Linked DNA regions of Homo sapiens: regions 2 and 3 are each linked to region 1. The links come from fine-mapping of genetic effects on gene expression. A gene starts in region 1. Each other region holds a variant in brackets. All regions are shown on one strand. Distances are from middle to middle.

Region 1 (8,168 bases):
CTAGGACTGTCCCCATATAAAGAGCTGAGACTACCTTTTGTTCCAAACAAGTCATAAAGTACACTGACTTGATGCTTTAACCATCTTGTTTGGAAGGGAGGTGTTTCATTGCTTCCCCTGTGGTTTCCTACCAGAGCTTCAACAGACATTCCCCCAGTCAGGAGAACCTGGTGCTAACCTGGCTGCCGCATAGATAGGACACCAGAAGACCAGAAGGTGGACGAATCCACCCAGGTTCAAGGACAAATCAGTGGCTAGGCCTAAACTGGAACCCAGGCATCCTGCCCCCAGGGCAACTGTTTGGTTCCTTATATTATGGCACACTTACATCTAGAGTGGGAGTTTGGATTCTTTGTTTAGATAGGCAGATTTTGCTTTTCTCAATGCTGAAGGACCTCCACTAGATTGTCTACCTCCTTGTGAAAACCACAGGATTTTCAGGTGTTCTAAAATAAGCTAATATCTGTGCTATTATTTATCTGTATTTAGAATTACAGAGGTATTACAGGTTAGTATGATGTAACATTCCAAATACTGACTTGCTTTTTGAAGAAAGCTGAAAAAGCATGAAATAGGAATGCAAATTGTTAGGGAGAAATAGGTATTCATATGAAAATACCAAAATCTGCCCCACCCAGAGAACGCACACAGGCATGTAAGCTGTCTTTATTGACCAAGTTCATAGGCCAGAGAGAAGCAATCCCATTAAACTGGCAATGGGTTTAATACAAACTTCTCTTTCTATTCCAGGAAACAGCCCTGTTGGGAAGAATGGGAATTCTGGCCCTCAGAGTTTCGGTGGCATTGTTCATCCATTCTCTCTCTCAGCCTCTCTCCCAGAACTTGGTAACTTTACCAGACTAGCCATTAAGGATTAGCCATACAGAAATGGCTTCTTTTTGTAATCAACAGGACCAGAAATTACAAAGATGATTTGGCAGAACCAAGCAATGCCACCCAGCCTTGAAGAGAACAGTCAGATTTGTGACCCTGAAGCATCTGCATTCTCAACCTTTCCAAATGAAAAAGTGTCTGCCCTACACACACTGTAGGTGTGTAGCATTTCATACATGGCATGTTGGCAATCAACATATAAAAATCAACTGGGATTCTGGAATTCCAAATACTGACTGAATACAACGTGGAATTCTCTTCTGCATGTCTGCTCAAATTTAAAGGGGGAAAAAAAGCCACATCAACCCCAGCGTGAAACCAGGAGGCTGTACGGGAACCTCTCAAAGGCTTACGACCCTAGTTTTGATATGTGAGTGTTTTAGAAAAAAAGAAAGTGGTACAGATTTCCTAAGACAGTCCCTAAAACACCAACCCAGGGAAATTAGGCATGGAGATATAGCAAGCTAACGTTGCAGCAAGCCCTAATGAAGTTAAATTGCATTTCCTATTAATTATCTACTCTATATCATTAGTTAATTCTTCCCCAACACTTGATAAATTAGATGGCTACATTATTCTATGTGCCATGTATAAATCTCTATTCCTATTTACTCTGACGTTTAACACAGACACACATGTGACTTCCAATAACCTTTATCCTTACAACCTTCAGCTCATACCTCTTAAGAACCACATGCTCTTGATTGCAGTTCTATTTTATTGGAAATTCCATGCCTTATGTTATGCATTGAGACAGAAAATGTAAAGAAAGATGTGCTCTTGAAATATCTAATTGCATTAAGCTAGGAAGCACACAACTAACCGCACATAAGCAACTCAAGAAGGTTGAGTTTGCAGAGAAACACTCAAACAAGGCAAGGTAGGAGTTAAGGTAGTTTTATGAAACAATGACTATTCAATGCTAGTCTCTGAATATAGTGTTAAGTCAAACAAAAGATCATAACGTGAAGGTCACATTTAAAAAGTCCTACGGCCCTTAGTAAAAGGAAAAAAAGTCCTCAGTGACTGACTGGTCATGGTGGAAAAATCCAACCTCCTCTTCCCTCACCCACCTCCAGGGCACAGCCGAAAGGATAAAAGTTCTCCTAATACCCAGAAAAACAAGCTGGCCTTTTCCAGAAGAAAAAGAGCTTTCCTAGAATCAACAAAAATTGAGGATGATCATAAAAGTCTAAGAGAGAAAAAAGCACTAGGACAACTCTAACGAGCAATTTAAATACATTACATCAAAGTGGACTATTTTCTTATGTGAACTTTGGCTCAGTCTGAAGTCTTTGGAGAGGGTGGTGCCTTTTTTTCCTAGGATGGGAGGGAAAAAGCGAACATTTAGCAGAGTATGGCAGAAATGGTCTAGTGATGCTGCAGTGCCTCCTTCTCACAACGCTAAGATGGGAAGCAGACACGTGCCCTGTAGGGCATCTGCTCGTATGTCCGGCTTGAGCTCCTGCCTGAGAGTTGCTGTGGCTCTGGAGTCTCAGAAGCTGCATCACTCACACCTCCGACCATTCCCTTCCCAGGTGGACCCCCCGCCAACCAGACCCAGAGTCTGTCCTGGGGGCCAGAGGGGCAGGCACAGAAACTGGCGCCTGGCTCCCAGGATTAAGAAGACACTATTAAAAAGCATCGCTGGTTTCCCCTAAATTTGGCAGTAGGAAAATAACTTAGGACTTTCAAGAAGAGTCCTAGTCGCTCACTGATCCGTCTTTTCCCCTCACAGATTGTGACACAGGCCCATTCCCGGTGAACATTTTGGCTGGCAGTTACTTCACCACCTATTGAAATTCTGTTTACGTTTGGCCCAGAGAACCTGGACGGATGTTTGTATCTCGGGGGCCCCATCTAGTACAATTCCTGGTGCACAGGCTTGCAACAAATTTACGAAGGTAACAGACCAAGCTGCCGGCGCTGTTTTTCACTGGAGGAAAGCTCGGCGGAAGCGACACCTAGAGGGGAGCGGCGGGCTGTGGCCGCGCCATTCATCAGTGTCGGCGGCCCGCGGCCGCGAGCGAGGGCTGCTGGACAGCGCCCCGGCACCCGCTCTCGAGCCGCGACACCGACCTCGCCGGGCCCGCCCCGCTGACCCGCGCACTCCTAGTGCACTTGCCGCGCCGCGCGGAGGCTCGCCGCGCTCTGGAAAACAAGAAACCCCACTGCCTCGGCGGCTTTCCGCTCCCGCAAGAGTTGCGGGCACAAAGTCCTCAGGTGGCAGGCCTGGGGTTGGCGCCGCTTTGTCGGCTGCAGGGAGCCCCAAAGACTAGCGTCAGCTCGTCCCCAAACTCGAGGCGACAGGCGCCGAAAGCAGAGTGCTGTGCCTGCCTCGTCCAGGTCCCTCCTGAAACTCAGAACTCGTCTTTGTTTTGCGGGCGCAAAGAGGGCGGAGATCATCCACAGTGCAAGCTCTCTTAGGACCAAGCCCCCAGCCCGAACGCTGAACGCCCCCAACACACTGCTCCCTAGACACGTTCAAGCGGGTACCCCGGGCCGCTCACTCTGGACCGCGGCCGGCTACGCACAAGCAGCGCCGCAGGCTGCCTGGAGTCGGGTCGTGCCCTGATTCCTTCCTCCCCAGCCTCACATGCGGCGGACCCCGGGGAAGCCAGGGCCAGGCGAAGCGCAGCGGGCCCTTTGGGCTGCAGCGAGGAGACGCAAGTTTCCCCGCAAAGCCGCGGGGAGGAGGTGCTGAGAATGCCTGCCCGGCGCCCCAACCCGGAGCCAAGGGCACCGGGCCCGGGCCGAGGGGCCGCGCTCGCCTGGCTCCGCCGGGGCCGCTCGGGGTCCTGAACCCAAGAACGGCGCCTGCAGGATTTCGGAGCCGGGCGCGAGCTGCGGGCTCGGCCCGAGCGCTTCTGCGTGGCGCCCCGCGTGCCAACCGGGTCACTCCGGTCCCCACCGTAGACCCCGGCCACGAGCCTCGGCGTCCCAGCCTCTCCTCGAGTCCTGGCCTTGGCCGGGGTAGCCCTGCCGAGCCCTGGCCCAGCGGTCCCTTCCCCGCGGGCAAACTTGGCTTTCCCGGCGCGGGCAGTAAGGACAAGCAAGCGCCCGCGCCGGGCCCTGCAGCAAGATGCGGGGCCGCGGGCGCCAGGACCCCAGTGGGGTGCAGCGGGACCGGCTGGTGGCGGCGCCAGCGACATGGCACCCTCCCCGCGCCCGCTGGGAGCTGCGCCCGCGTACCTGAGACGGCCGGGGCCGAGGGGAAGACCAGGTGGCCGGACTTGGGCGGGAGGGAGGGAGCACCCCGTGGCGGCGGCGGCGACCCCGCCCCGCGTCCTTCGGCTGGTTTCTCGGGCTGTCGGCGGGTCCCGGGCTCGCTGGAGGCTGTTGAGGCTCCAGCTCCCTGAGCCGCCGCTGCCCGCTGCTGTGCCACCGCCGCCGCGGCTGCCCTATTTCTGCCGCCGGGACCGGAGCCCGTGACGTCACCCTCTGGGCCCCGCCTGCCCAATCGCCGCCACCTGTGCGCGCCGCCCGCCCGCCAGCCGGTCAGACCCGCGCGGCGGCCACGGCAGGTGCGCGGAGCAGGCGGGCGCGCACGCGGGGCGCGATGACTCCGGAGCGCTGGGGCCATCTAGGGCCCGGAGGGAGGAGGGCCAGCGTAGCGCTCCTGCCTCTGGCTAGCGTGGAGCTCGGCAAGTGACAGCCCCTCTTCACCTCTGCTCTCCTCCAGGCTCCTTTCCGGGCCAGGTTCCCCAAAGCTGTGCTCTCCAGGCGCACAGGGGGTCTCTGAATCCGCGGCCATTGCTCGTGGAGTCCAGGCGGGCCGGTACACCACAGCAGGAGAGCTGTCCCTGGGGACAAAGTGGGTGAAATCCCCCGCCGTTGAGACCCAACAACCTGGGAAACAGCAAAGGTTTTCTCTTTTCTGAATCTTCCCTCTTCCAACTACAGAATCTTAAGACATTCAGGGCATACAGGGGCAATCCCAAGTGACATTTGCCTACCTGACCTAGCTGGGCCCAGAGGGTCCCTTCTCCCTTAGAACAGGATATTTCCCCATCCTGATCCCATCCCCAAGCCTGGGGCTCCCAAACTTTTCTGAATCCCTCTTTAACATCAGCAGCTTTTGAGATCAGTCTTCCTTCCCGAATGAACTGGAAACACCTTTGTAACAACTAGGGGCCCATAAATGGTCATACGTAGCCTCAGTCTGGCAGGAAACTTAGGAGGGAGCCCCTACCCAGGCCAGGCTGATGGCCAGGAGACTTTCTGAGGGCCTGCCTCCTGCTCTGGCTGCGTGGGCACCAGGGGCCTTCCTGGCTTAGGTGAACAGTGTTCTGTCCATGCCTCTGTAATCTCTCCTGGCCGGGGGGAGGTGACAGAGGGGATTTTTCTGAGGATGAAGTTAGTTAAATATAAGGAAAAGGGGAAGAATAATGGAAGGCTGACCTGAAGAAAGAGATATTACGTTTGTTTTTTCCTTCCACAGATTTTCCTGCCGCTGAACCCCTCCAATGCAGCAGGCACTGTGCTATTAATAGTTGCTAGAGATACAGCAGTGAATGGGCCAGCGCGGTCTTGGCATCACACAGTTTTGGTCTGGGGTCCAGCTCTCCCTCTATCACTGCCAAGCTATGTAATGCAGAGCCAATCGTATCTCTACTGTAGGTATCAGTTTCCCCACTTGTAAAATGAGGGGTTGGACAAAACCTGGTTGACTTCCCATGTGGATACCATGATTTTTACTCAGAAGGATAAAGGCTACTACATCCTCAGTGACCCTGGGCCCTAGCCAGTGTGATCCTCTCTCAGATTTGACTATGAATCTTTGCCAAGGCCACCATGACTGAACTTCTGGGGCTGGCTAGGGGCCAGATTCTCCATGGCAGGACTGGGGAAGGGATGGCACTTTTCATCTTGGGAAACAGAAAAGAGAAAATGAGTATAAAAGGAAGCAGGGAAGTTTGGAAATGTGCTGTGCCTCCCTCTGAAATGTAATTCTAAGTCTGTGGTCAGGAACGTACACCATGGCTTAGAGGCTGGATTCGGCTCTCCTCTAAGACATGAGGTATTTGGAAAAGCAGATTTCTATTCTCAGCTCTGATCACAAAGTCCCTGAGTCAACCTAGTGGCCTTATTACATAATCAAAGCAGGACTTTGTGTATTTTTTGTTTTTTAGTAACTCAAGGTCATATGTAAATCAGGGTCTATAGGTTGACCAAGATCAGAAATAGCTCTGTTTAATGCAGTGAACAGGCACTGAACTTCTACACGCTTCCCAAAGAAGGAGAAGAAGGTAGTTGCTGCAAACCAGATGTATGGAATATTCCTTAGAGAGAATGCTAACATCTGAAGTGAGCTGTTTAACTACTGTGCATAAAATAAGAGTGAAATTAAAAGTCACCTCGGAATGAGAAAGGTGAAGTGTGAATGACAAAATAAAACAAGGCTCCAGGGAAGCAGCATCAGATGCCAGTAACCTTGACACCTCTTTGAATTGCTCTGTGCTTTTACCTCTCAGTGTAATTTTTTGTTTAATAGTACACCCCAAATTGGAAAATAGGCTAGATTTCACACTGAGAATTTCAAAATTTGCCTGAAACCCTGTTTCAGAACTTGCAAGCATACTGATTCTCAATAGCCAACTAGGATTCTTAGGGGAAATAATGGTTAAGTTTTGAACTTCATGTAATTCAATAAGCTTGGAATAGGGGAGCTAAAAGGAAACATAAATTCCAGTTACTGCCCCCCAGCCCCACTCTGTTTTTGGTGAGTGGTTCAGCCAGAGACACACATAAAAACATTATTAATATACTTTTACAAGATCAAAAAGTTTAAGCAACCCAAATATTTTTTTACGTTGCTGGTTTAAAATCTTTTTTCTATTTCTAATCCTTACCAAAAACACAACAATATAATGAAAAACTACTGCCAAATGATGTGTGTCTCTTAGGACATTTCAGATTACACCTGCATATCAGGATACTCAGAGATGACACATAGCCATGGGAATCAGGAGGAAGCAAGGCACTTTCTCCAGATCCAACCAAAAGTATCTGCATCACTAACTGTGGGTCAGCTTACCCTTGGGAGTCCCCACTAGGCTGGTCAAACAGTGCCTAGAAATACCCATTAGAAGCCAGACTGGGAAGTCATGTGAGAAGGTGGGAAAAGGCAGGAAAGAGTCTTCCTTGTCTTGCATAATTTAACGTTCTGCTGCCTGTTCAAAAAATGTTTTTGTAAATCTTCAAACCAAACCATGCAGTTTACTGAAGAGCCAGCCCTGTGCTTAGGAGAGCCCTGGATGGGAGGCACAAGGATGGGGTCTCTCTCCCGCCTCAGCCTCTAGGGCTCAGTGAGCCTGGGAGAGTCACACCTTTCCCAGAACTTGTTTTCTCTTAAGTGGGAATTGGGAATGGGTACATGGGAGGCAGTCATACTAAACGACATGTCTAAGGCCATTTTCAGTTCTAAAGGTCTATGCCTTTATTTTGCCTGTATTTATAGAAGTTCAGTTATTCTGATCTAAACAGAGCTATGATGTTGAAGTTTTCCTCTAAGTCTAATATTAATGCTTATTTTTAAGATGATAATTCATTAATCACCTAGAAATTAAGGGAATGTAGGCAGTAAGTTCAAGATCCTAGACTTAAGATTACACATACATAATTGTTTTTAACTTTATTTCAGGGAGAAAAGTAGCTAGCATGGAGATAAGGTATTCATTCAAGGGACAACTGTGATTGGGGAAATTTTTCGAGACAAAGAAGAAGTGGTATAGAGTAGGAATTTTAATGAAGAAGTTGGGATAAATGAGAAGATGCAGTGATGGAAAGGGAATTGTGAATGGTAAAAATGGAGGGAGATGAACATAAAACCCTCACCATGGCATTGTTACCAAGGCAAATTCCCAGCAAACTCACAGGGGCTGGATTGATGGCACAAGGGGACCAAGAAAGGTGCTGATAACAGGAGGAAACTGAAGTCTGCTACTCTTAAGAATGTATTGTTTACAAGGGATAATTGGGGATGAGATGGCCAGGCCTACAGCCACAAACTATCATACCCTACTGAGTATAGGCAAAAGGGATGAAAGAGGGAACATATTAAGAGGAGAGTGAAAAGAGGGGCCAATTTCCTTTCTTTGAAAGGGACAACATAATTTTTATCATGACCCTGTTTTCCAACTCACCAGTATAGAATCATAAATAATGTGAAAATCTAAATCTATCTATCTATCTATCTATCTATCTATCTATCTATCTATCTAATTTTAAAGGTGAACTGCTACCTTAGGGAGCTTCCATTCTTTCTTTTCCTC
Region 2 (8,178 bases), 370 kb before region 1:
GCAGGGAGCCTGGCGCTGTGGACCTGCTGGCATTTTCCCTCCAAACTGCCTTCCTGAGCCTTCACATCCACAGCCCCTTCTCATGATGGCCCTTGAAGCTGGCCTCAGGCTCTGGCAGGCCCTGCCCTCATCACCACCTGTGTGGTGGTGTTTAGTCATCAGCACCACCACATTCCTCAGGTTGAGATGGGCCCTGGGCTCTGAGGGCTGTCCCAAGGCCACTGTTCCCAGATATCAACCTCAGGTTGATACCCATTAATACCAACATACGGTCTTCAAGAGGTTACCGTGTGCCGGGAACTTACACGTCACCTTGTATGTATTTAATCCTCAGGAAAAAAAAAACCCTGAAAACCCCAATCCAGAAAACAAAACAAAAGCCCAGTTCCCCAGGGGCTGAGACACTAGGCTCTCCTTGCAGATTCATTCAGAGTGGGGTCTTCTCTCACCACCTCCATCGCTCCTGCTCTGGCCAGCTGCCACCTTCCTGGGTGATGCCAGGGACCCCGGCTTCCGGCCCACAGACTCTGCCCTGAGCCAGCCACATCACGCCCCTCATACTCAGAGCCTTGTTTGCTGGGGGCCAGCCCCTCTCAGACCCTACTGCCTCGCACACTCCCCTTGCTGTTGCTCTAGTGTGCCAGGCATGCTCCCCTCCTCCCAGGCTGTCTGTCTGTCTCCCTCTCCTGCAAGTCTGCTCCAACCTTGTCTGGCAGCCCCATTTCTGGAGCCTAACCTCTTCCCCACACCCTGCTTGGCGCCTCCTGTGGACGCACTGCTGTGCCGCCTGCTGCTTTCTGTACTTACCTTGTTTGCTGTCTGTCTTCCCCTGCAGAATGTGAGCTCTGCAGAGGAGGGCAGGGAGGCTTGTGCCCTGTGTGCCTGTCACAGTCCTGGTGCACAGTGGGCCCTCAAAAAATAGCTGTCGAGGGGACTGTACAGGGCACCGAGCTAGGCTTTCTGAGGGGATTCTTTCAGTTTGACAGCCGAGGTGCCCACCTGCCTTCCTGTCCACTCAAATATTACCCAGCCACACAGGCTCAAAATGAGGCAGCTGGCGGGAGGAGCAGAGCACTGGTCTCAAGTCTCGTCCCCACTTCCCCACTTGTCCCCTTCTCCGTCCTGCAGCCCTCGGGAGAACTCGAGGCTCTTTTGCACTCCTCAGGCTGGGGCACGCTGGAATTGACCAAAGCTCAGAGCAGCAGGAAGAGATGGAAAAGCCCATCGCGCATGGATTCCCACCCGCTACTGATGACTTGTGCTGTGCCTCCAACACAGTCATTTAACCTCACTGTCTGTTTCTTTCCTGCTTACCAAGTACACATCCCTGCTCCCCAGGAGCAGAGACTTAACTCTTGGGCAATCACTCAGGTGCTGAGGGGTGTGTGTGTCAGCCCTTGGAGGACTTGAGGGGCTCCTGGGTGTGTTATGGCTCTTCCGTGAGAACCTAAGCATTACCTGTCTGTGGCTTCAGCTCGGAGGAGAAGCTGACTCTGTAATAAGTAAAATAACGTCTCTGGGTGAAAATGATAGGCATCATATAATTACAGAACAAAGCGCATATTGTTTTCTGGATATGAATACTGGCTACAGAAATCAAATTTACCTCATTGGATGTGAGAAGAGAAAATTACTTTAACAATTGATTTATAAGAAGCTACATAAAACTAAGCCTGCAATCCTTCCTCTCCTGAATGTTCTTTGAGATGCATCTGAATACTGCTATCAACGCTTGATTGCATCTCTGTACTTGTCTCTTTATGGATGGCTTTTTTTTTTTTTTGCTCTGATGCATAGAACTGTATTAGCAAAATCAAGGTTCCTTACAGAAATAAACAGATGTCAGATTAGACCATTCTTTGTATTGATGCATATCTGTTTTCTGGGAAAGAGACAATTTTAAAGACATGGTTCTCACCTTTTAAAAAGCGATTTTCTAAGTATCTGCCCTTAATAAAGAACACAATTAAATGAGACTTAAGTATTAAACAATAGTTAAGCAGAGATGAGATGGGGGATGTTGTCATAGTGATCCATGGGAGTCAGGTATATATGGAAATGAGTCATCAATACTGAATATTTAGAGACTAAATGTTCAACGCAAGGACTCCAGAGTAATATTAGAGTTTAGGTTAATGATACTGTCAATGTTACAAGTTCAGACTCAGTTGAGAAACAATTATTCAGAGCTTTTCCGACATTGCCCTCCTCAGGAGCACCCCTGGTTCTCTTTGTGGGAGGAGGGAGCAAAGGGGGGGTCTCTCCCCCAACAATCCTTCAATTCTGGCCCCCAGAATGCCACTAACTGTAGCATCTCACCTGCACAGTCAAATGCAGCAAACTTAAACACAGAGTGACATGTGGTGCCTCGGTGATGGCCATTCCTCGAACACGTCTAGACTTCCCTGGCCCTTATCCAGACCAAGCCAGGACCACATGCACATGTGGGTGAGCACACACAGGCATCCACATGGACACATGCAGTACATGCGAGTGTGCACATGTGGGTGAGCACACACAGGCATCCACATGGACACATGCAGTACATGCGAGTGTGCACACATGGGGGAGGGAGCGCACCCAAACATCTACATGGACACGTGGTACACATGATGATGTACACGCATGAGTGCACACACGTACCAACATACTGGCTCCCTAGTGCTGACCTTCCCGACCAACACTGAGGTTACGGCGACATTCACTTCATTCTAGTCCCTCATAGTGAGAGATGACAGCATGCTGGCAGCCCTCGCAGCCCTTGCTCGCTCTCGGAGCCTCCTCGGCCTTGGTTCCCACTCTGGCCATGCTTGAGGAGCCCTTCAGCCTGCCGCTGCACTGTGGGAGCCCCTTTCTGGGCTGGCCAAGGCGGGAACTGGCTCCCTCAGCTTGCCGGGAGGTGTGGAGAGGCGCGGGCGGGAACCGGGGCTGTGCGAGGGGCTTGTGGGCCAGCGTGAGTTTCGGGTGGGCATGGGCTCGGCGGGCCCCGCACTCGGAGTGGCTGCCAGCCGGCAAGCCCCGGGCAGTGAGGGGCTTAGCACCTGGGCCAGCAGCTGCTGCGCTGGATTTCTTGCCGGGCCTTAGCTGCCTCCCTGCGGGGCAAGGCTCAGGATCTGCAGCCCGCCATGCCTGAGCCTCCCCCACCCCCACCCCCCTCCCTGCCAACGTGGGCTCCTGCGCAGCCTGAGCCTCCCAGAAGAGCACTGCTCCCTGCTCCAGGGCGCCCAGTCCCATCAACCACCCAAGGGCTGAGGAGTGC[G/C]GGCGCACGGCACGGGACTGGCAGGCAGCTCCACCTGCAGACCTGGTGCAGGATCCACTGGGTGAAGCCAGCTGGGCTCCTGAGTCTGGTGGGGACTTGGAGAACCTTTATGTCTAGCTAAGGGATTGTAAATACACCAATCAGCACTCTGTCTCTAGCTCAAGGTTTGTCAACACACGAATCAGCACCCTGTGTCTAGCTCATGGTTTGTGAATGCACCATTCGGCACTCTGTATCTAGTTATTCTGGTGGGGACTTGGAGAACCTTTATGTCTAGCTAAGGGATTGTAAATACACCAATCAGCACTCTGTATCTAGCTCAAGGTTTGTAAACCCACCAATCAGCACCCTGTGTCTAGCTCAGGGTTTGTGAATGCACCAATCGGCACTCTGTATCTAGATACTCTGGTGGGGACTTGGAGAAACTTTGTGTGGACACTCTGTATCTAGCTAATCTAGTGGGGACCGTGGAGAACTTTTGTGTCTAGCTCAGGGATTATAAACGCACCAATCAGCACCCTGTCAAAACGGACCAATCAGCTCTCTGTAAAACAGACCAATCGGCTCTCTGTAAAATGGACCAATCAGCAGGATGTGGGTGGGGCCAGATAAGAGAATAAAAGCAGACCTCCGGAGTCAGAAGTGGCAACACGCTGGGATTCCTTTCCACGCAGTGGAAGCTTTGTTCTTTTGCTCTTTGCAATAAATGCTGCTGCTCACTCTTTAGGTTTACACTGACTTTATCAGCTGCAACACTCACCCTGAAGGTCTGCAGCTGCACTTCTGAAGCCAGCGAGACCACGAACCCACCAGAAGGAAGAAACTCCAAACGCATCCGAGCATCAGAAGGAACAAACTCTGGACACGCTGCCTTTAAGAACTGTGACACTCACTGCGAGGGTCCGCGGCTTCATTCTTGAAGTCAGTGAGACCAAGAACCCACCAATTCCGGACATAATAGACGGACTTGCCATCCTGCAAAGACCTGAGGAACCATCCTTTTTCTCAGAGTCCTCTCAAGAAAAAGAAGTCTCTGCAACTTGGAGCAATCTCTAAGTAGCTGTCTGAGCCCCCTGGAAGAGGGCTGTTGTGGGCAGCTGCATTCAGTGTGAGCAACCTGGAGTGGGCCTGTCCTCCTGCTCGTTCCCAGGTTCAGGCCTGGAAGAGGGAGTTGGAGGCATGAGAGAAGCCACTGTGGGGAGAGCACCTGGTTCTTCCAAGGCTCGGGGCATGTGTGGTCCCTGGCTGACTTGGGTGTCCTCTGGTGTGTGCGGTCAGTCTTCTTCTGACTGTGGATGCCAAAGGGGAGGCCCTTATCTCTTAGCGCATGACTCATCTCTTCGCGCATGACTCATCTCTTTGTGCATGACTGTATTATTCTCAGCGTGTCATGTGGTTCCTGTGCATAACTGAGCTCAATGAATATTTGCTGATTTCAGGGAGTGTGTTAGCCTAGGATGCTACCTCCTGGGAAGCCCTGAGAGGAAGGATAGTTAAGAATTCATATTACCCAGGGAGGTCTGGCCTTGCCCTCTTTGGCTACAGGGAGGCAATCTCTAGGCTCTGGAATGTCATGCCTCATAGGGGTCTCTTTATTTGCCTGGGGTCTTTGGGCCAGGTGGTACCAGTTCTGTCTCTAGAGGGGCTGGGGACGAGAGGGCAGCCATGTGGGCAGTATTTGAATGAGCTCCAGCAAAAGCTTTGGACACCGAGGCCTGGGTGAGCTTCTCTGGGAAATTGACACTGTGACAGTGACATGTCTGTGACTCCACTGGGAGAGGAGAACAGAGATTCCACGTTTAGAGCCCTCCTGGGCTCTGCCCTTTGGGCTTCATCACTTGGCTGACTTTAATCTGTACTCTTTTTGCTGTATTAAACTTTAACTGTGAGTATAACACTTACAATGAGTTCTGTTTTTCCAGCAAATTGTTGAACCTGAGGGTGGTTTTGGGAACCACCTGACTTCCAGTTTATGTCAGAAGTGAGGGTGTCTTCTGTCGAAGAGCCAACTTCAGTTGGCTCAAAAACTCAAATAGGGAAGTTCTGACCTAGTGGTATGCGTGTTGAAATTGCGTATAGGGACAAACCTGATTATCTGGGTATACACAGAGGCCCAGGCACCTGCAACAGAAGGCTCATGCCAGAGACATTGCTCTGAGCCCTCCACTTGTCCACCCTTAGAGGCCAGCAGGCAAATACCTCTTGACATGCCAGGACTCCAGAGTGTTATGTAGTAGGGGTGGCAGCTAATGGGGCCCTCTGGTGAGGTGCAGGCCTGAGCCCTTGAATGGGGCTTTGGCTCCTTGGCTAATTAGCTTGGCATCCCCAGCTGGGGCGGGAAGGGACTCAGGTTCTAGACTGCACTGTAGCAGTCATCTGAAGTTCCAGACCACCTCACACCTGCTGCTTTCCTTTGGGAAACCTGCAACCCTCTTCCTGGGGATCCTTGGATCCTGAATCCCCAGGCTGAGAAGGCCTTACCAAGGGTTTCAGCTCCTGACTCTAACTTGGACCACACTCACAGCCATGACAGCTGATTCCTGTCGTTGAGACACTCCAGAGAGGATTTAAATAAATTTCCTTCTATGGCTCATTTCAGGGACCAAGACGACTTTCAGTTAGGAATTTCCTCCTGACACTGTGTTCAAAACTCTTACACATTGTTGGAGAGGGCGTAGACTGGTGCAGCCATTTTGGAGAGAGATTTGGCAAAACCCATCAAAACTGAAAATGCATCACTTCCGAGAACTTATCTTACACGTCAACTTACACACATGTGCAAAGAGGTGGGTATAAGGATGTTTACTGCAGTCTTGTTTGCTGTAGACAAAACCTGAAACAGCTGCATGGGGCTGGGGAGGGGGAGTCCAGGAAGAGCAGTGCTTGGGCATGGCTCATGGGCTGCAGGACCTCCTGGTGACTCCCTTGTCCTTGCTTAGTGCAGAGAGTGCCTTGGAGGGGTAGGCTCCAATCTGTAGTGGCCAAGAGAGGCACCAATCGGCCTCCTTCATTGACTGGGCCTCTGTAGGGAGGCAGTGAGGCTCAGGGAGGAAGAGACTCTGTGGGGAGTTCCTGGGTTCTGCAATCAGGGTATAGAAGCTGAATCAGAACCTTCCTGTGGGACCCTGTACCTTGGAGATGGGGCCGGAAGTGGTCACTGAGTACAAGTCAAGCCCTGAGGCCAGGGCTTCCCCTAAGGCTTTCCCCTAAGAGGGGAAAGAGGACCTCGAAAGAGGCACTGAGAAAGCAAAGGCCAGAGGAGACACTTGGCAGGGCAGAGTCACCCCACAGGTTCCACAGGCTGGAGTACCATAGGCCCCGGCCCCCATATCTTGGAGATCTCTGGACACTACTCCCAATGGTTTGAGCACATTCAAAACTCTAAAGAACTGGATGTTCAGATGTTTTTGACACAAGCTACAGAGAATTGGCCAAAGCCTTTAAGTGCTTCAAATGTAGTGTTTTCTAAGATTTTAAAACAAAATGTACCCAAGCATTTAATGAGATTATTTTAATGCAGAGCCTACAACCACTGTCTATCGTGGTGCAAACAGCTCTCCATGCTAATCAAACGCCTCTCATCTTTTTACAATGAATTCATGACTGGTTCATATAAAGACAATAAAAATTAAATGAGTCATGAGCTCCTAAATCATTTTCTTTTGGTCTTTTTAATAACTCCCTTCCAAAGAAGAGCTAGCTGAGAGCATACGCTTCATTAGAATTATTTGTTCCTGGTTTTATACCATTTAGGTATGGGGAGAAAAGTGAACATTTTAACACATCCTTCAAACACTGCCACAAATACTTTCTTCTAATGGGTTTTGTTTTTTGCTTTTATCACCGTACTCTGCCTGCCGACATTAGAAAGCCCCAAATAGCGAGATTCAGTGAAAAAAAAACCCAAAACAAAAAAGAGTGGCTCTTTCAAGTCATTTGAAATATACTGAGTTTGTTGTAGGCCTTTTTGTTTTTTCTGTTTTTTTAAAAAAGAATACAATAGAAAAATGTTTTCTCTCCCTGAGAATATCCTGGCTAAACAATTCCACGTGCTGGTCTCAGAGCATGTTGCTTCCTTCCTTGCTGGGGCCAGAGGCCAGCAGCCAGTAAGAATAGGAGCTCCACACACAGGGACCCATATCCAATTTGATACATTCCACTGGGGCCTGGGAACTACAGACAGCCCCACAGCAAAGATTTGGAATTGCTGGGGGCTAGATATTATGTCCCACAAGCAAGAAACCCAGAGAGCTCTGGGCCAGGGCATGTAGGTGGCTGTAGGCCCATGGGCAAGTTCTCCACTCATCTGAATGAGTTAACCCCACGTGCCTCATGGGGCAGGGGTATGGGATGAGCTGATGCTTATGACCTCACAACCGGCACGGAGCCTGCACCGTGTATGAATGGTAACAACACTGGCAACAACACTTGTGATGGTTCAACCCAACAGCCATTACCTGTGACTTTTGAGATGCCCTGTCCCTGTTTCTGCCCGTTCCTGTCTCCTGGCCCTCAGGATCATAAAGGACAGTGAGGAAGACAGTTATGAGATGAAGGGTGGGTGACATTGTTGAGGCAGGATGTGCCGACTAGGTTTGGGGACAGTCACTTCACCCTCCGAGTGGCCGCTGTGCAGGCTGGGTGGTCAGAGAAGCAGAGGGCTGAGGCCCAGAATGGGTTTGCATGTTCTGTTTCTGCAGAAAGTGAGGCAGCACCCCATCCTTCCCAACCCCAATACCTAGAATGGGGGCCAGAGTAGGGAGGGAATGTGTGGATCTGCTTCTGAGATGGGTCTCACCCCAGCCCCCAAAGCCTGGACCTGAGTCCCCAGGAGACAGGGGCTACAGGGGAATCTCACCAGGGAATGGCCCCTTGTGGGGGCCCCACAGCAGGGGCTGGGGGCAAAGTCTCCCCTTCTA
Region 3 (8,178 bases), 85 kb before region 1:
AACATTTGTGAATCTTGGTTTTTTTTAATATGTTTTTATATGTAAAGTGAGGTTGACAGCACTGGTCACTTGGGTTTGGTGTGATGATTAAATGTGGAGCCTGACACATAACAGGTACTCAATAAACAGCAACTACTCCTATCATTGTTGCCATTCATTCATTCAACAGCAGTCCAGGGACCTAATATACAATTTATTATTTATTATGTTACCCATTTATTACAATTGTAAATTTGAAACACATTTTAAAATACCAAGTCTGAGAGGACATTTTTGTCTTAGAGCCGACATCCTAGTCCACTGTACAGACATTAAACAATAAATAAGACAATTTCCCATAATAACAATTGCTGTGAAGAAGCTAAAACAAAGTCACAGGTGGGCAGGGAAGACGGGTGTCCTTGTGACAGGAACGTCAGTGGTGGTCTCTCTGGGAAGTTAACATCTGGGAGACACCAGATGAGACAGCAGCAGTCACAAAAGATCCGAGGGGAGCCGCTCAGGGAGAGGGGACAGCACAGCATGTGCACAGGCCCAGGGTGGGAGCAGGTGTGTCCTGCTTGAGGGGCAGAAGGAGGACAGGTCAGCGTGTCTGGAGCATGGGAAGCTGGAGAGAGAGATGGACGGGCTTGAACGGAGACAGGCAGGCAGAGGTGAGATCACACAAGCCCTTGGAGGCCTGGGAAGAAATTGGATTTTATCCTAAGCCTAATGGGAGATCACTGACAATTTAGGAAGATAAATCATTTTCATGACTGTGGGTTTTCCAAGGTCTGACATGATAAAGGGAAAAGGCTTTGTGATGACTGAAGAGTGAAGAGCCAGAGTCACAGCCTCTGGCAATGCAAGAAGAAAGGCGAGAGCGGTGTCAACTCTGAGGAGTTTGTAGGGAATACACACCATTTGCCCGTGTGTCACTTTGCCTCATTCAAGATGCTGTAACTTGCAGAACAGAGGGCTAAAACAACTTCGCGCAGAGAAGCCTGCTGTAGACAGGGGCACCACAGAACGTGTGCTTCTTCCAAGCTGCGTCTCTTTGGACCCGTACTTGCAATACTAACAGGTGCATAGAGGGCCCTCCAGAAATGCACCCCCCACCCCGCCCCTGGGTGGGTTGTACAATACTGCAGTGATTCAAACGTATAGCGCTAAAGCCAGGAAAATCACAACCAACAGACAGCCCCCATGGGCCTCTGCACACAAAAGGCAGCCATCCCGCTGCCTGGCCCAGCTAGTGAGTGAGGCCACCCACTGGGCACCCACTCAGATGCACTGGCAGATGTTAGGTTTCAGGACTGAATTTGGCCTCACTGTACTCAGTCCTCCTCACAGCCCTTTGGAGTCACCTAATCTTGCTAATATGTCTGTAAATGCTTTAGATGAGGAGTCCCTGAACAGACACATGCACCACTAACTTCATGGATCAGAAAGTCCTCTGAAACTTTACCTTTTTAACCCTGTTACATGGAGTCTTCCCAGCAGACGGGTGCCCCAGCCTTTCCGCTGTTCTGGCAAAACAGGCCCACAGTCGATATGTCAGTTTGATGTCTCAAGAGCTACCATTAATTATGTATCCCTTTGGTTAGAAATGCAAATGACCCTTGGCAGTCATTTAGATCTCCATGTGAATTCGCTTATCACGCACATTCCACCCCAAACAGAGCTGGCCAAGCCAAGCGTGATGCTTGATGAGGGCTGGGTTGTTTCCCCCTGCACTGCCCAAGTCCATGTCTGGTTAGCCTGTGCCTGACTTCTACCTCACAAGGATACACAGAGTTCCCACTCAAAGGCAGCTTCTTTGTTTCCCACTGAGAAAGAGCTGCTTAGGGAGAATTAGAGCAAGCTAAATTAGGGGCATTGAAACCATCCTGCCCAGTGGTGTTCCCCAGCTCTGGATCCATAGCTTTCTCATTTGATGGTGAGTGGGGGGAGTTTCTTATTCATCTTAAGCAGTCTCCTCACGGTCTCTGTTCTCCTGAGACTGGCAAATGATCATCAGAAACCGTCCTGGCCTTGGCAATGATGCCGGCCTCACTAAACAAGCTATATCGCAGCAGTGTAATTGCCAGTTAAAGAGCACTTCGTCCTAATTAACCTCTTCAGGGAATGAGTAAAAGCATCAAGAATTCCAGAGTTCACAGAACCTGTGCACAAGCCCTTGTCATGCAAATGAAGAAATTGAGTCTTGGGGTGAGCAGGACCCGAGGTCCCTCAGCTGACCAGTGCAGGACTCGGACCAGAATCTGGACTTCTAGACTGACTCCTGAAGCCCTGGTTTACTCCATCAGCCAGTGGGAACTGTCAATATTCTCCTAGCTCTTTATGCCTTCAAATATGTCTGTCAAAGACATATTAGTTGAGCATGTATTACATGCTCAGCACTGTGCTGGGTGCTAGGGTCATGGGGGAGACGGAGCAGCTTGTTATTCTCTCAACTGTCTACTGAGCACCTCTCACGGGACACACACACTGAGGGCCCTGAGGAAAGCACGACTTTAACAGATGAACAGCTTTGATACCTAGCACTGTGATTTTCTAACTACAATGAGACATTGATACTTATCACACACAGTTATTGGACATACTAAATGCCATGATATTTATGAGGCCTACGGTAAATGATCAATACACTGTGGCTATTTTTATTCTCTTCACTATACAGCTGGGGAGATGAAGCAATTCATGAAACCAAGGGGGTAGCCTCATTATCAAGCACTGGACAATGAGGGGTGGGTTTTGAGTGTTGAGGGAAAGAAGGTGAACAGGAGGGAACTGAGAAGTCTTTGCAGAGATGAGATCTCAGCTGGGTCTTGGAGGAAGAGGAGAATCCATTCACAAATAGGGAAAGCCCAAATGTACAGCCAGAACGAAGGGGACTTGCTGGGTTAGGGTGCGACTCCTATTGGAGAGGTAGGGTAAGGATCCCCCACGGATGGTCTTGAAATTTGGGCAGAAAAAAAGTGAGGGTTCCTAATGACCCCTGGAGGCCATTTAGATCTCCACGTGGATTAGCTTATCACACACACTCCAACCCCAACTGAGCTGGCCAGTGGTGAGAAGATAACATTTGCGGACGAGTTGTGAAGTGGCGCTATGCAG[G/A]CAGGGTCAGGGAGGCTCATGGGGAGGCCTTTGCAGGGAGCTGGGGATGAGGACTTTGACCACATGGGAGTAGCAGGAGGAGATGGGATGAATGCGAAACAGGAGAAGGAGCAGAACTTGTCGGCCAACCTGGACAATTCAGACTTGGACCAACAGGAGCTGGTGAACGGGCTGAAGTTTTGAGCTTGAGTGGACAGAGTTGCCAGCCAACTTCCTTCACCTCCAAAAGGCTCTCCGGAGGCAGTTTCCAAGTCCTCCTTTTTCCTACCCAACAGAGCGGCAACTGGCAGCAAGCTGCCAGTTGTGTAAGTCCACACAGCCACAATCACTGTGGATGAGGATGAATCCTGAGTGCAGCCCTCTGTCCTGAGAAGCTCATCAGGTCTGTGTGGGTATCTCCAAAAGACTGCTAATGCACTCATTCTCAGTCCCCACATGTCCTCTCGTCTCTTGTTTTGTTTCTACATTGCTGGAAAATGAGAGGTTTCAGCAGAAGATGGAAAATTATCCTTTATTTTGATTCTGTGTTTGAACACCTTCCACTTCTCTGCAAATTGAGGGGTATATTTTAGTATAATGCTTGGCTCATGGAACCAGAGAATCAAAAATTAGTCAAGGTTCCAAGAAGACTGGTGAAGCTTTATGCCTCAAAGAGACATGCTACTTTCACTAGAAACTGCTTCTGACTCCTCATGAAGACCAGGGTTCACCCCCAAATCAGGCAGGGCTAGCCAGTGTCTGTTCTCTCAGCCTCTCAGTTGTGATCTCTTTTGCTCTGAGATGTGCACGTGTACACACACACACACACACACACACACACACCCATAAGTGCATTCACTGCATAACTGACCGATGTTATAAGCATTCCAGACATAAAATGCTGTTAAACAGCCAAGCATCATCCCTGGAAATGCAGGCCTGAACTGATCCTATAAGAATTATAAACTGAACAGCTGAGGGAACTCAGAGTAGCAAGAGTCATTCACATTATAGAAATATTCTCCCCTTCTCTCCATTGCACTTTTCCTTATTTGGAAACATGAAGGTGAAGGTGCAAAAGACACATCACACACAGACTGAGCTATGGAGTGATAACCAGCAGGGTGCCTGGCCCAGACAGCTATGTCAATTCTGGGCCCAGACAAAAGAGTCCAAGTAACCCCCCTGATATCCAGGGGTCAGCCACCCCACATGGCAGCCTTGGCCTTGCTTGGCTTCCCACCCCCAAGGAACACTGGGCACTCACCTGCAAGTTATTAAGACACAAATCTTATTAATTTAGCTCCTCCAAGCCAGATGCCTATGTTGGGAAGGAGGGTGAACCTGGTCATCAGGGTTAGCCCAAGCACCACAGAATAACCTTGATAAGTGTTATCATTTCAGGGATTTGGTTCAGGTGTACACAGTGGAACAGGTGGAATGTGGTTGCAGGTAAAATGCCATGTCCCCTCTTGCTGTTTCCGTAACAATTTCAAAGACACACTATTATGGCTCTAAGAAATAAGTCACCTTTAACAAAGGGGGGATTTCCCACAGAAAGGTGAGCTGCCCATTAGGCCTCACTATGGCCTACAAGCTCTGCCAACCTTTCTGGTAACTCTTGGCTTCTTCTCCTCCATTTAACATCTGCTCATATTGAGTTTTTGTTCCTAACTCAAGCCATGCTCTCTTGCTCTCATGGAATTTTCTCTGCTTTAAACACCCTCCCTCCACCTGGCCCCTGCCCCACCCTGCCCCACTGGGCCATCTCCTTCTGTTCTCTGGTTAGATGCCCTGTCCTTGGGAAGGATGTCCTGACCACCGCGTCTGGATTCGACACCACATGCAAGCTCTCATGCTACATGTCACGCTGAACTGTGATTCCTCCTCCCTGAGCTTGTCATGGGATGACTACATCCCTAGCACCCAGGGCAGAGCCTGGCACGCTCCTCTGTGAACACTTTTTGAATTGAGTTGTGCTGCTGAGACACCAGCAGAACCCCTGCCCCACTCTTCTGCAGGCCAAGGCCACTGTTCCCAGCCAACAACTCCCTTGTCCACACAGCTCCTTCCATCCCAGGTGACTTGATATCCATTATAGTGCATGGTTCCCCCAACAACCCGTGTAAGTCAGCATGGCAGGGATACCACCTCATATTTTAGAAATAAACAAATTGAGATGTCTAGTAAAACCTGTTCTTGTTTGGACACAGAGCTGTTCGCTATCTCCAGCCTCTCTTGCCATTAGATGTGGCCATGTGATTAAGTCTCCTCCATGAGAATGTGCATGGCAGTGAGCAGTGCCACCTCCAGGTCTGGCCCATGAGAACGTCCCACAGGCATGGGGGAGCCTCCATGCTCTTGCTCCGGCTGCCTGGGATGCTGATCCCCAGGGTAATCTTGGAAGCCATTGTCAGCCTGGATCCACGAATGGCCATGTGGAAGACAGCTGCCTTGACAATCTGAACACCTGCTCAGAATTGTTCCTGGAGCAAGAAGTAAATGTCCATTGTGTGAAGCCACTGAAATCATGGAGACTATTTGTTATTGGAACCTAGCATTCCCTGTGAATACCCAAAGGCTCAGAAAAGATAAATGACTTGCCCAAAATATTAACAACAAATGCCAGCACCAGAATCCATGTTTTAATTAAGAATCCTCACATGACTCTGTGGGGAACTAGCATTCATCACAAGGTATTTTATTCAGGTGTCTCCTTCTCTGTCTTCCCTATGAGACAAAAACCAACCCAGACACAAACAGTCAGCCCAGGAACCTACCAAGCTAGCACCAGGCCTGGTACATTGCAGGCTCCCAATGCTTTCTTGAGCACACACTGACATAATGCTTACTATGCACCAACCTCTGTTTTAAGATTTTCATAAATTTTAATTTATTGAATTCTCCTAACTTTATGAGGTATGATTATTATCATCTCCATTTTATAGATGAGGATAATTAGACAACACTGCCTCCCTGGTGCCTGATCAAGGAGCTAAAAGATCCCCAACCCAGACAGGGCATTTCTGGTTCTAAACCCTCTCCTAAACAGAGGCTCAGCAAATGGTAAAGTTCTGCTTCGTTGAAGACTCACCCTTCAGAGTTGCTGGTTCAGAACTCTGTTGAATGGTTTTTTGTATATTGCTATTCATCTGTGTAATATTTATTTTCTATGGGAAAGGAAAATAAAGCAATAAAATGTTTCGGGTTTTTTTTTTTTTAAGCGTCCTGTCTGATTGGATTTGTGCAGCAGTCCTCAGAACACGGATCCAAACCAGTACATGAAGACGTGACTTTGTGTAACCATTTCTCTTTTCTAAGGCAGCGAGTCCAGCTTTTTGGAGTGTGACACCCAATTTGCTTGTTTGGATTTTGTTAGACTTTTTTTCTTTCCTGCCTCCAAATTCAGCTAAAACTGCTGTATTCTGTGTATTTGTTTTTTGTTTGAAGCAAATGGTTTTGAGACTTCTGTGCCAGCCCTTGAGACAGCTGGAGACACCCTGGGGTGCTGTAAAACCGACGGTGGGAATCACTGATCTCAGAGAGAAGAAAAAACAGTTCAGGGAAAACTAGCAAATCAGCATCTTCTGAAGCTGCAGCATGAGCCAAGAGCACTGCGGCCCTGGATAGCACCGTTAGGAGCCGCAGAAATGCCTCCCCACTCATGCTGGAATTCAAGGTTACAGCAGGTTAAAAACACCTTGCTGGACTCCAGGTGCCCACCTCAGCACCTTCGCTGCCTGCTCAGGGACATTCACAATGGAGCAGTTCTCAGGGCCCACGTGTAATCCTCAGTCACGTGACATGCATTGTGTGCTCAACACTAGCCTAGGTGCCTTGAAGACAAAGACAAGTAAATAAGCTTAAATGAAGCAAATCTAGTTTCTGCCTTCAAGGAGATTGTGGTGAGGAAGAAGATAAGACACAGGCATAATATCTTGCATGTGTCCTGGAGAACATATGAGTTTAGCTAGAAAGAGAACCTCATCTCCTCCAGCTAGAAATTGCTGTGTGGCTGTGCCACTTTTAGGTGGACCTATGGCCAGGGACCCTGCCCCGACAACAGGGACCCTTCACCATGGAGCCCCAAGATAAACAAGGCACATTGACAGAGGAGGGCCAAGAAACCCCTAACTAAGGGCTATACCCAGGCCCCACACCCCAGTGCAGAGACCTGGCAGGCTGAGCTGGGCCAGAGACTCAGACTCACACAGGCCCTGAGTGGGCTCTCCGTGGTCTTTCCCTCTAACACCCACAGACTCTGATATGGGATCTTGCCCCAGTGCCAAATGCTGCGCAAGCCTGGACCACAGTAGGCTGTGCCCAGACTGGACATGGGCCAGACTCACATCTAGAAGGTGGGACTGAAGATGAGGCTCGGCCCTGGATAGGGCCGATATTCTTCTTTGCCGGGAGAGCGAATGCAGAAAAGGATGGGCTCAGACACACGGACTGACCCCTCCTTGTGTCTCACTGGCTGATCATTGATGGGATGCTCTCTTCACACGGTTTCTTTCAACATCTTTCCATCGAAATCTTAGCAACCTTCTTGTCAACATGTTCCTTTAAAGCAATTGTTACAAGGCACCTCTTTGGAAGAATGTGCTGACCCCGTCCCCCAGTGGTATGAGTGAGGCATGAAAGGGGAGGAAGTGAGATGTCTGGGGCCCTGACTTTGGCCCTAATCTCTGTGGTCACCTTGTCAGAGAGGGACCCACATCATGAGTTTCAGGATTATTCTTACCCATGACTCATGAGGCCTTAAGCGTCCTACTTCTGCCGTGGAATATCCCCTGGAAAGACTGAGGGCCAGAGCTGAGTGTGGAGTGTGGATCCCTCCACACTGGCAGCAGCCAAGCCCCTCCACACTGCATTTGTTCCCTAAAAGAACATTTTTCTAAGCAGGCCTCTCAGCTCTGGGGAATGAACAGCGATGGAGTGAGCAACAAATTGTTTCATTTGCTAAGACTGTGAGCTACAACTTGCAATAAATCAGTGTGAAATGAGAAAGTAGAAAGGGAAAGATGATCCTTCTCCAATTGCCAGTCAAGCTTTAGTTTACAGCACCACAGGTTTGGTGATAGGGCGGAAATCATCAGA

What was found. PIP is the estimated chance that this variant, and not a neighbour inherited with it, causes the effect.
Region 2: its variant is fine-mapped to the expression of FSTL4 in whole blood (INTERVAL, PIP 0.98).
Region 3: its variant is fine-mapped to the expression of FSTL4 in whole blood (INTERVAL, PIP above 0.99).

The regions. Positions count from the first base shown.
Region 1 is chr5:133,608,239-133,616,406 of GRCh38, forward strand. FSTL4 (follistatin like 4) reads right to left here and starts at 4,303. Exons shown (of 16, transcript NM_015082.2): 1 at 4,087-4,303. RefSeq lists a silencer at 2,985-3,034.
Region 2 is chr5:133,236,085-133,244,262 of GRCh38, forward strand. All of the region lies in intron 7 of FSTL4 (follistatin like 4), which reads right to left. Among named protein-coding and RNA genes, the nearest start is that of FSTL4-AS1, 16 kb to the right of the region's middle. RefSeq lists enhancers at 1-400, 4,000-4,500, 4,431-4,710, 4,501-5,001, 7,723-8,178. The variant G/C (reference allele first, on the strand shown) is at 3,260.
Region 3 is chr5:133,523,582-133,531,759 of GRCh38, forward strand. The region is part of intron 3 of FSTL4 (follistatin like 4); the gene reads right to left. Among named protein-coding and RNA genes, the nearest start is that of FSTL4, 85 kb to the right of the region's middle. RefSeq lists an enhancer at 1,239-1,739. The variant G/A (reference allele first, on the strand shown) is at 3,100.